2 separate regions of the Homo sapiens genome follow, and region 2 is linked to region 1. The links come from fine-mapping of genetic effects on gene expression. A gene starts in region 1. The other region holds a variant in brackets. All regions are shown on one strand. Distances are from middle to middle. Region 1 holds the start of NTN5 (netrin 5). Region 2 has its middle 2.5 kb from the start of FUT2.

Region 1 (4,309 bases):
AATTACTGTTTACATAACCCAAAGGGGAAAGAACGCAGACAAAATCGAGAATTTTGCCTGAACTAATCCGTAGCTTAACACCCCAGAGTTATCCGTCAGTGTCGAGGGGCAGGGGGCCCTGGGGAGCGGTGAGCGGCTGGAGCAGAGGGGCTGGCCAAGGCCAGCAGACGTGGAAACCTAGAGAGGGACACAGAGACAAGCAGGGCTGGGCAGGAGAGGGGGCTTAGGGACAGATGAAGACTCAGTCACAAAGAAATAGAGGACAGGACAGAGGCAGAGAGAGGACAGTCAGCCTAGGGGAGGCGCTCGGCACAGAGAAGTTGCTGCAAAGACAGAGGAACAGACAGGAGGCTGAGAGGCTGAGACAGAGGCCAGGCACCCAGAGGCCACAGGGAGCTGGGAGACTGAGGCTCGGACTGCCTGGGGGCTGGGATAGGTGGGCAGGTGGGCTCAGAGACACCCAGCCTGGCAGGCCCTGGGGAGGGGAGGGAAGGGGACAGGCTAGGGGTGTCTGGCGGGGGATCAGAAGTGAGAGACCGAGGCCCAGGCCTGCAGGGATCAGAGCCATTGCCTTTCCCACATGGGGCCCTAACCTTGTTCTCCACACCCTGGGCACGGAAGGGGATTATCACCAAACAACCCAGCCTCCCTGCCACCCGCCCACCCACCCCCAGCGCCCCACCCTTAACCCTTTCCCACCCGAGTGCAAAGCCCAGAGAGCTGAGCTGAGGAAAGGGATGCTGGGAGCTGGAACCTGGGTGGCTCTGGGGCTTGGGAGCGGGACAGTGGGATCCCCATGGGGTCAGGGGAAGCAGACACCTGGGTTCCCTTCAGAACTCAGGGTGTGGGGACCGGAAGTTAGCGTTCTGGGACTTTCTGCTCACCTCAACCCTGCCCTCTATTCTGGGCCTCAGGGCCTGGAGACCAGAGTCCCCACATTCTCCACCCATCCAGAGTTCCCCAGAGCAGATGGGGGAACAGATGTTGGGGGCGGTGGGTAATGAGGAGGAGAGAGGCAGGAAGGCAGGAGCTGGGACAGGGTGGGGTGCCAGATGCCAGGGCGCCCGTGGGGGCAGAAGCCCAGACCCTAGGAATGGCAGGAGCTGGGAAGGACTGGACTCTGAAATGCCCCCACTTTCCCCTTCCAGGGCCAGCAGCCTCTGGTGAGGAGCTCACTGTGGACTGGGGGCCTCGGAGCCTTTCCAGGCCCTTGGCTCTGAATCTGCGCCCAGGAATGTCCCTGGGCTGGGCATCTCTGGGGCACCCTGGCGGTTGAGGTGGGCCACACCTGCCCCAGCCTGGCCTCACTGCCCATGTCCCCACTGCTGTTGGCCACATGCAGACGCTGCCTCCCCTGGCCCAGATGACAGGCCTCGCCCTCCGCCCTCCCAAGGAGCCTGGCGCCATTTTGCACCCACTCAGGTGGCAGCCGCCTGCCTGGCCCTCAGCAGCATCCTGTTAAGGGCCAGTCCCCCATGTCCCCTTTCTCTCTGGATAGTTGCTGGATAGTTCAGGGGGTGGCACCCTCTGGCCCTTAGCACCTTGAGGAACCAGGCTGTGAGTTCCCTAGTGTTCCTGGGGGATCCAGAAACCAGTCGTGGCCCACAGAGAGCCCATACCCCTCTTTAAGAAAGAGTCCAGCCATGCTCCCAGCAGACTCATAGGAGGCCTGCCTGGGCGGCCTGGGGTCCATCTGGGACCCAGGCTTCCTTTCCCTGGCTCTTGGCATGCACCCCCCAACCCGAGCCCTGAGGCCCCGACATTGGCCAAACCTGCACTCAAGAAGAGAGCGTCCTGCAGCCAGTTCCCCGCAGGCTCTTCCTCCAAGCTGTGGCGCGGTGGGCTCTCAGGAGGGAGTGGCGTGGCTGTTCTCAGGCCCCAGGCTAGTGGGGTTTCTGGGCTGGGCGGGGGCTCAGAGCAGAGCCCGCAGAATCTAACACCGCCACCCCCCTCCCACCCCAATCCCTCACCAACCGCAGCCACGCTATCCCCACAGGGACCCCTGCCAGCCAGGCCACCCGCAACGGTGTGGGACGTGAGTGCCGTTGCCCCCGGCGGTCCAGCAGCAGGACAGCCCCGAGCAGCCTGGCCTAGGAGGCTCACCGCAGGTAGGACGGGAGGCTGTCAGTCGGGGGTCCCGCTCCATCCCACTCCACCCCTGCCCACTGGCTCAGCCCCGCCTTGTGGTGGCCGCCATCGCGATCGGGCAGGGGCTGACCTTTGGGAGACAATCGCTGTTGGAAACTTTGCTCAGCCCCTGCCTCTGGCTGCGTGACCCCAAGCCAGCCCCTCCTCCTCCTCTCTGGAACCTTTTGTCAGCTGTGGGTTCACCGAGCCTTAAGGTCAGTAAAATCTGTGCTCTTGGAAGGTTCAGACCAGCCCCTGGAATTCAAAAGACCTCAGTCGCTTTCTAAGATGGTGGGGAAGGCGACAAATGAGCTGAGAACACCTGGGCCCCAGTGTTTCTCATGCGGCAGAGGGAGAAGGCGGGGACCCCCGGGGTGCGGGGGACCAAGCTCAAAAGCACCTCCCCAGTGCCGCTGGTGTCCTGCGAGTCCTCAGTGCTTTCATCGTGACATTTTCATGCGAATGTTGCTGTCTGTTCTATTCCATCTCCGAATGGGTTGACTAGAAAAATAATGTTTTCTGTCACTTCCCGCTGAGAAAAGCAAGGGCCTCATGGAGTTGGGGCGCGGCACCTGCTGCCCTGGGTGGCCCCAGCGTTTATCGTGGTGTAGCGTGGGCCCAATCCTGACAGGCTTGGGACCCACTGCCCCAGGCCCGCCCCCAGGGGGTGCGAGGGCACAGCAAAGGCGACCCTCGACTCTGGACCCTTAGGTACCACGTTGGAGGGGGCCAGATTTGGCAGGAGCAGGACAGGGACATCGGATTTGAAAGAAGGGAGTCACTCCGAAAGCTGGGAGGTGCATCAGCTGCAGGAGGATGGAATGGGGCTGAGACGCCCCCCATCAGAGGGGGCATGTCAGAGCTGGGGGCCCAGGCTGTGTGAGTCAGAGTGGAACTTCGGGATTCAGGCGCAGGTCCCTCCGCTGACCCTGCCTGAGCTCCCCCTGTATGGGACTTTGCCGGGGGTTCGCGCTGGGAACACAGACCCCTGCCCCATCAGGCTCAGTGTCCAGAGAGGGAGGGGGAGACCCCAGCAGCGCAGGTCCTTCTGTGCTCTAGGTTGTTGGAAGGTGCCAAGTGCCTTGGAGCAAAGCAAGTGGGGGGGGCGGCCACGGGGGCCCGGGGATTGCAGATGTAAGTGGGGTGATGCGGAGGGGCATTTGTGCTGAGCCCACCGCCAGCACAGAACCCAGCTTTGCTGCCACACAAAACTGAGGAAGAAGGCTTAGGTCTCGCTGCGTCTTCCTCCCCACCTGGGCGAAGTCTCAAGCTCCGGCTCCTGGAGGGAAGCTTTTGTTCCTTGCAGCTTGAGCTGCCTGAGTTGATGGGCGCCCCTGCGGGTGCCCGGGGGCAGGCGGGGAAGAACAGACGGAGCTGCCACAGCCGAGCACATAGTGCCCCAAGCTGGGAAGGAGACTGTTTTTTTTGTTGGGGAGAGTTCTTTAAGGGCTGGAGACCTTCACCCTCACAGCTTCTACAGAAGGCCAGGCCTGCCCAAGGCACATCTCTGAGGTGGGTTCAACCCAGAGAGAACCTCAGTGCTGGGCTCACACAGACCTCTAACCCCTGCCTTGGTGGCCCAGATATAACGGAGTCTCCACGAGGCAGGGCAGGTCACCCGCAGGAGTTACTGGGCATTGTGTGGCTGGGTAGGGCCTGCCCTCCCGGACATGTTCAAAAAGGCCAGGATGGTAACCCCAGCCATACTGCCTGGGTTCAAATCCACCTCTGTCCTAGCTGTGTGACCGAGAACAAGCTTCTTAACCTCTCTGTGCCTTCATTTCCTCATCTGTTAAATGAGGAAGAAAGAATGGACCTTCCTCATGGTGGGCGGAGGGGGTCATGAGGACTGAATGAGCTGACATGCCCACGGGTTCTTATCTGAGCTCTCTGGGAAAGTCGTGTTCCGGAACCTTCTGCTTCCTGGCCCTGTTGTCGGATGCATAGTACGTACGTGACATGGCATCCATGGTAGGTCTGGGCCGCATCACATTGTCAAACATGTTATGTTTTAGGCAGCAGAGCACATGGGTGTTCACAGTAAGAGAAGTAAAGTCTGCAAATAGCCACATGACCCTCCTCCAAGCCAGGGTTGTCCCCAGATGAGTTCAGTCCAGGTTGGCGTTTGCCGCTCCCCCTGAGGAAAATGGCTGACAAGGAATCGCGGACCAGGACAGCCAGC
Region 2 (4,381 bases), 20 kb after region 1:
TGCCCGGCCTACAATTTTTTTTCTTTTTGAGACGGAGTCTCGCTCTGTCGCCCAGGCTGGAGTGCAGTGGCGTGATCTCAGCTCACTGAAAGCTCTGCCTCCCGGGTTCACGCCATTCTCCTGCCTCAGCCTCCCGAGTAGCTGGGACTACAGGTGCCCGCCACCATGCCCAGCTAATTTAAAAAAATTTTTTTTAAATTTTTAGTAGAGATGGGGGTTTCACCATGTTAGCCACGACGGTCTCGATCTCTTGACCTCATGATCCGCCCACCTCAGCCTCCCAAAGTGCTGGGTGGGATTATAGGCGTGAGCCACCGTGCCCGGCCTTTTTTTCGTTTTGTTTTTTGAGATGGAGTCTCACCCTGTCACCCAGGCTGGAGTGCAATGGCACGATATTGGCTCAGTGCAACCTCTGCCTCCCAGGTTCAAGCAATTCTGCTTCAGCCTCCCGAGTAGCTGGGATTACAGGCACAGCCACCATGCCCGGCTAATTTTTTGTATCTAGTAGAGACAGGATTTCACCAGGGTTGGCCAGGCTGTTCTCAAACTCCTGACCTCATGATCAGCCCGCCACCCTCTCAAAGTGCTGGGATTACAGGTGTGAGCCACTGCACCTAATCTAATCTTTTATAACTGTCAATCTAATCTTATAACTGTATGTTAGCCTTTGTATGCAAAATGCTGTCATTCTGCTCACGATCTCCATTTTTTGTTGTTGTTGTTGTTGGTTTTTTGTTTGTTTTGTTTGTTTGTTTGTTTTAGACAGAGTCTTGCTCTTTTGCCCAGGCTGGAGTGCAGTGGTGCGATCTCGGAACACTGAAACCTCCACCCCACCCCGCCTCTGCCTCCCAGGTTCAAGCAATTCTTCTGCCTCAGCCTCCCAGGTAGCTGAGATTACAGGTGCTCACCACCACACAGCCAGCTAATTTTTGTATTTTTTTTTTTTTAGTAGAGACAGGGCTTCACTATGTTGACCAGGCTGGTCTCAAACTCGTGACCTCAAACGATCTACCTGCCTTGGCCTCCCAAAGTGCTGGGATTACAGGCATTAGCCACTGCGTTTGACCTCTCCATTTTTACCTGTATAAATGAGTTCCACTTTTCCCCATACTGGAAGCACTGATCACCATTCTTCGGTGTCCTTGTGTCCCTGGACAGCCACCCTCACACACTTGTGTTTAAAAAAACTTTTCTTATTTTTTTCTTGAGATGGAGTCTCGTTCTGTCACCCAGGCTGGAGTGCAGTGGCGTGATCTCAGCTCACTGCAACCTCCACCTCCCAGGTTCAAGCAATTCTCATGCCTCAGCTTCCCGAGTAGCTGGGACTACAGGTGTGCACCACCACACCCAGGTAATTTTTGTATTTTTAGTAGAGACTGGGTTACAGCATGTTAGCCAGGCTGGTCTCGAACTCCCGGTCTCAAGCAATCTGCCTGCCTCAGCTTCCCAAAGTGCTGAGATTACAGGCGTGAACAACTGTGCCCAGATTTATTTTTTAATTTTTCAGAGGCAGGGTCTTTCTCTGTCACTCAGGCTGGAGTGCAGCGTCAGGATCATAGCTGACGCTGGACCTCCTGGGCTCCTCTTGCCTCAGCCTCTCAAGTAGCTGGGACTACAGACATGTGCCACCATGTCTGGCTAATTTTCTTTATTTTTTGTAGAGAGACAAGGTCTTGCTATGTTGCCCAGGCTGGTCTTTAACTTCTGGCTTCAAGCTATGCTCCTGCCTCAGCCTCCTGAGTAGCTGAGATTACAGGTGCATGCCTCCATGCCTGGCCACCACGGCCAATTTCAAGCTACCAATATGAGATCATTGAACATGCAATTGGAAAGAAATGCACAGTATTACATTGTTCTATAGCAAGCCTATTACACAGACATAATAAATGTAAATAGGCCAGGCAAGATGGTTCATACCTGTAATCCCAGCACTTTGGGAGGCTGAGGCAGGAGGATCGCTTTGAGCTCAGGAGTTCGAGGCCAGCCTGGGTAACATAGTGAGACCCCATCTCTACAAAAAAACACAAAATTAACTGAGTGTGGTGACGGGCACCTGTAGTCCCAGCTACTCAGGAGGCCAAGGCAGGAGACTCATTTGAGCCCAGGAGGCGGAGGTTGCAGTGAGCACATACATTGATTGGCACACA[G/A]ATTGGCAGATACTAACATACAGTGTGTTTTTTTCTCCAGAGAACTGGCTGGTAAGTGTTTACCATAGTAAGAAGACTTACTATAGAACAATGTATTACTGTGCGTTTCTTTCCAATTCCATGTTCAATGATCTCTTATTGGTAGCTTGAAATTGGCCGTGGTGGCCAAGCATGGGGGCGTGCACCAGTAAGGGAAAGCTGAAATGGAAAACAGAGGGTTTAGGGCAACAGTCCTGAATTCCGGAGTGCTGTCCCCCTGGGGGAGTTATGGGAATCTGTGGGGGTTGTTTTTAGTTGTCACAGTGGAGGTCCTAGGATGCTACCACAGCGTTTACGCGGCTGGGGTCAGCGACAATAAAAGTTACGCAATGAAGGTTTGTCCTGCATTCTCAGGACTTTGTTTTATTTTTGAGACAGAGTCTTGCTCTGTCACCCAGGCTGGAGTGCAGTGGTACCATCTCGGCTCACTGCAACCTCTGCCTCCCAGGTTCAAGGAATTCTCCTCCCCTAGCCTCCTGAGTAGCTGGGATTACAGGCGTGCACCACCATGCCCAGCTAATTTTGTATTTTTAGTAGAGATGGAGTTTCACTAAAAAAAAATGTTGGCTAGGCTGGTCTCAAACTCCTGACCTCAGGTGATCCTCCTGCCTCGGCCTCCCAAAGTGCTGGGATTGCAGGCATGAGCCACTGCGCCCAGGTCATTCCCATGACTTTGGAACATCTGTGGGACATTCATGGAGTTGGAAAGTCTAAGCCTCTGAGCCCCAAATCTGTTTTGCGTTTTTTTTTTTTTTTTTTTTTTGAGAGGGAGTCTTGCTCTGTCGCCCAGGCTGGAGTGCAGTGGTGTGACCTCGGCTCACTGCAAGCTCCGCCCCCGGGGTTCACGCCATTCTCCTGCCTCAGCCTCCCAAGTAGCTGGGACTACAGGCACCCACCACCACGCCCGGCTAATTTTTTTTTTATATATATTTTTAGTAGAGACGGGGTTTCACTGTATTAGCCAGGATGGTCTCAATCTCCTGACCTCGTGATCCGCCCGACTCAGCCTCCCAAAGTGCTGGGATTACAGGCGTGAGCCACCACACCTGGCCTGTTTTGCATATTTTATGACAGCTCACCTCCCCACTTCCCCGCCCCACCCTGTTTCTTTTTTCCTTGTCGCTGAATCACAGGGAAACAGGTCGTTTGTCCTGTGGACGGGCTCACATTCTGGACTGGGCTGATTGCTGCCTCATGGTGTCGTTTCACTGGGAACTTTGTCCTCCTGTTTTCTGCAAACTGGTGGTTAGAGTGGGAAGCTTGATCTGATTTTTTTGTTTGTTTGTTTGAAGGGAGCTCCGTAGCTGGTAGGTAGCCTCCTGCTGCTTAGCTGAAGCTGGGGAGTGGCTGCTGGTTTCTCTTTCCTCCTGTTAGGACTGCTGGGAGCTCTGGTGGTGCCTGCCTCTTCTCTCAGTAAAATTCCTCATCCATCTTTTTTTTTTTTGAGACAGAGTTTTGCTCTTGTTTCCCAGGCTGGAGTGCAATGGTGTAATCTCAGTTTACTGCAACCTCCGCCTCCCAAGTTCAAGCGATTCTCCTGCCTCAGCCTCCCAAGTAGCTGGGATTACAGGTGCATGCCACCACGCCCCACTGATTTTTGCATTTTTAGTAGAGACAGGGTTTCACCATGTTGGCCAGACTGGTCTCAAACTCCTGACCTCAGGTGATCCACCTGCCTCGGCCTCCCAAAGTGCTGGGATTACAGGCATGAGCCACTGTGCTGGGCCATGGCTAATTTCTGTATTCTTATAAGGACGGGGTTTCACCTTGTTGGCCAGGCTGGTCTCTGACTCCTGACCTCAGTTGATCCGCCTGCCTCGGCCTCCCAAAGTGCTAGAATTACAGGTGTGAGTCACCACACCGGGCCCATTTGTATTTAAAAATTTTTTTGAAATAGGCAGGGCGAGGTGGCTCACGTCTGTAATCCCAGCACTTTGGGAAGCTGAGGCAGGAGAATCCCTTGAACTTGTGAGGCGGCGGTTGCAGTGAGCTGAGATCACGCCATTGCACTCCAGCCTGGGCAACAAGAGCAAAACTCTCTCAAAAAGTAATACTACTAATAATTAATTAATAAATAAATATAAGACTCTGAGGGGACTCAGAGTCAGCGAGAGCCTGGCCTAGCAGGACTCTGTCCCCCGCCTCCATGCTGCCTTCCTGGAGGCCTTCCTGGCTGCCTGGAGGAGCGGAGCAGA

The links. PIP is the estimated chance that this variant, and not a neighbour inherited with it, causes the effect. A credible set is the group of variants that fine-mapping cannot tell apart.
Region 2: its variant is the best candidate, but not a certain one, in a credible set for the expression of NTN5 in whole blood (TOPMed, PIP 0.89).

The regions. Positions count from the first base shown.
Region 1 is chr19:48,671,160-48,675,468 of GRCh38, forward strand. It overlaps NTN5 (netrin 5), which reads right to left and starts at 1,858. Exons shown (of 7, transcript NM_145807.4): 1 at 1,773-1,858. It overlaps LOC105372431 (a long non-coding RNA gene), which reads right to left. Exons shown (of 3, transcript XR_936016.3): 2 at 4,082-4,309; 3 at 1,987-2,628. It also overlaps the pseudogene SEC1P. RefSeq lists enhancers at 3,415-4,063, 4,064-4,309.
Region 2 is chr19:48,691,318-48,695,698 of GRCh38, forward strand. No RefSeq gene overlaps it. Among named protein-coding and RNA genes, the nearest start is that of FUT2, 2.5 kb to the right of the region's middle. RefSeq lists an enhancer at 3,925-4,381. The variant G/A (reference allele first, on the strand shown) is at 2,148.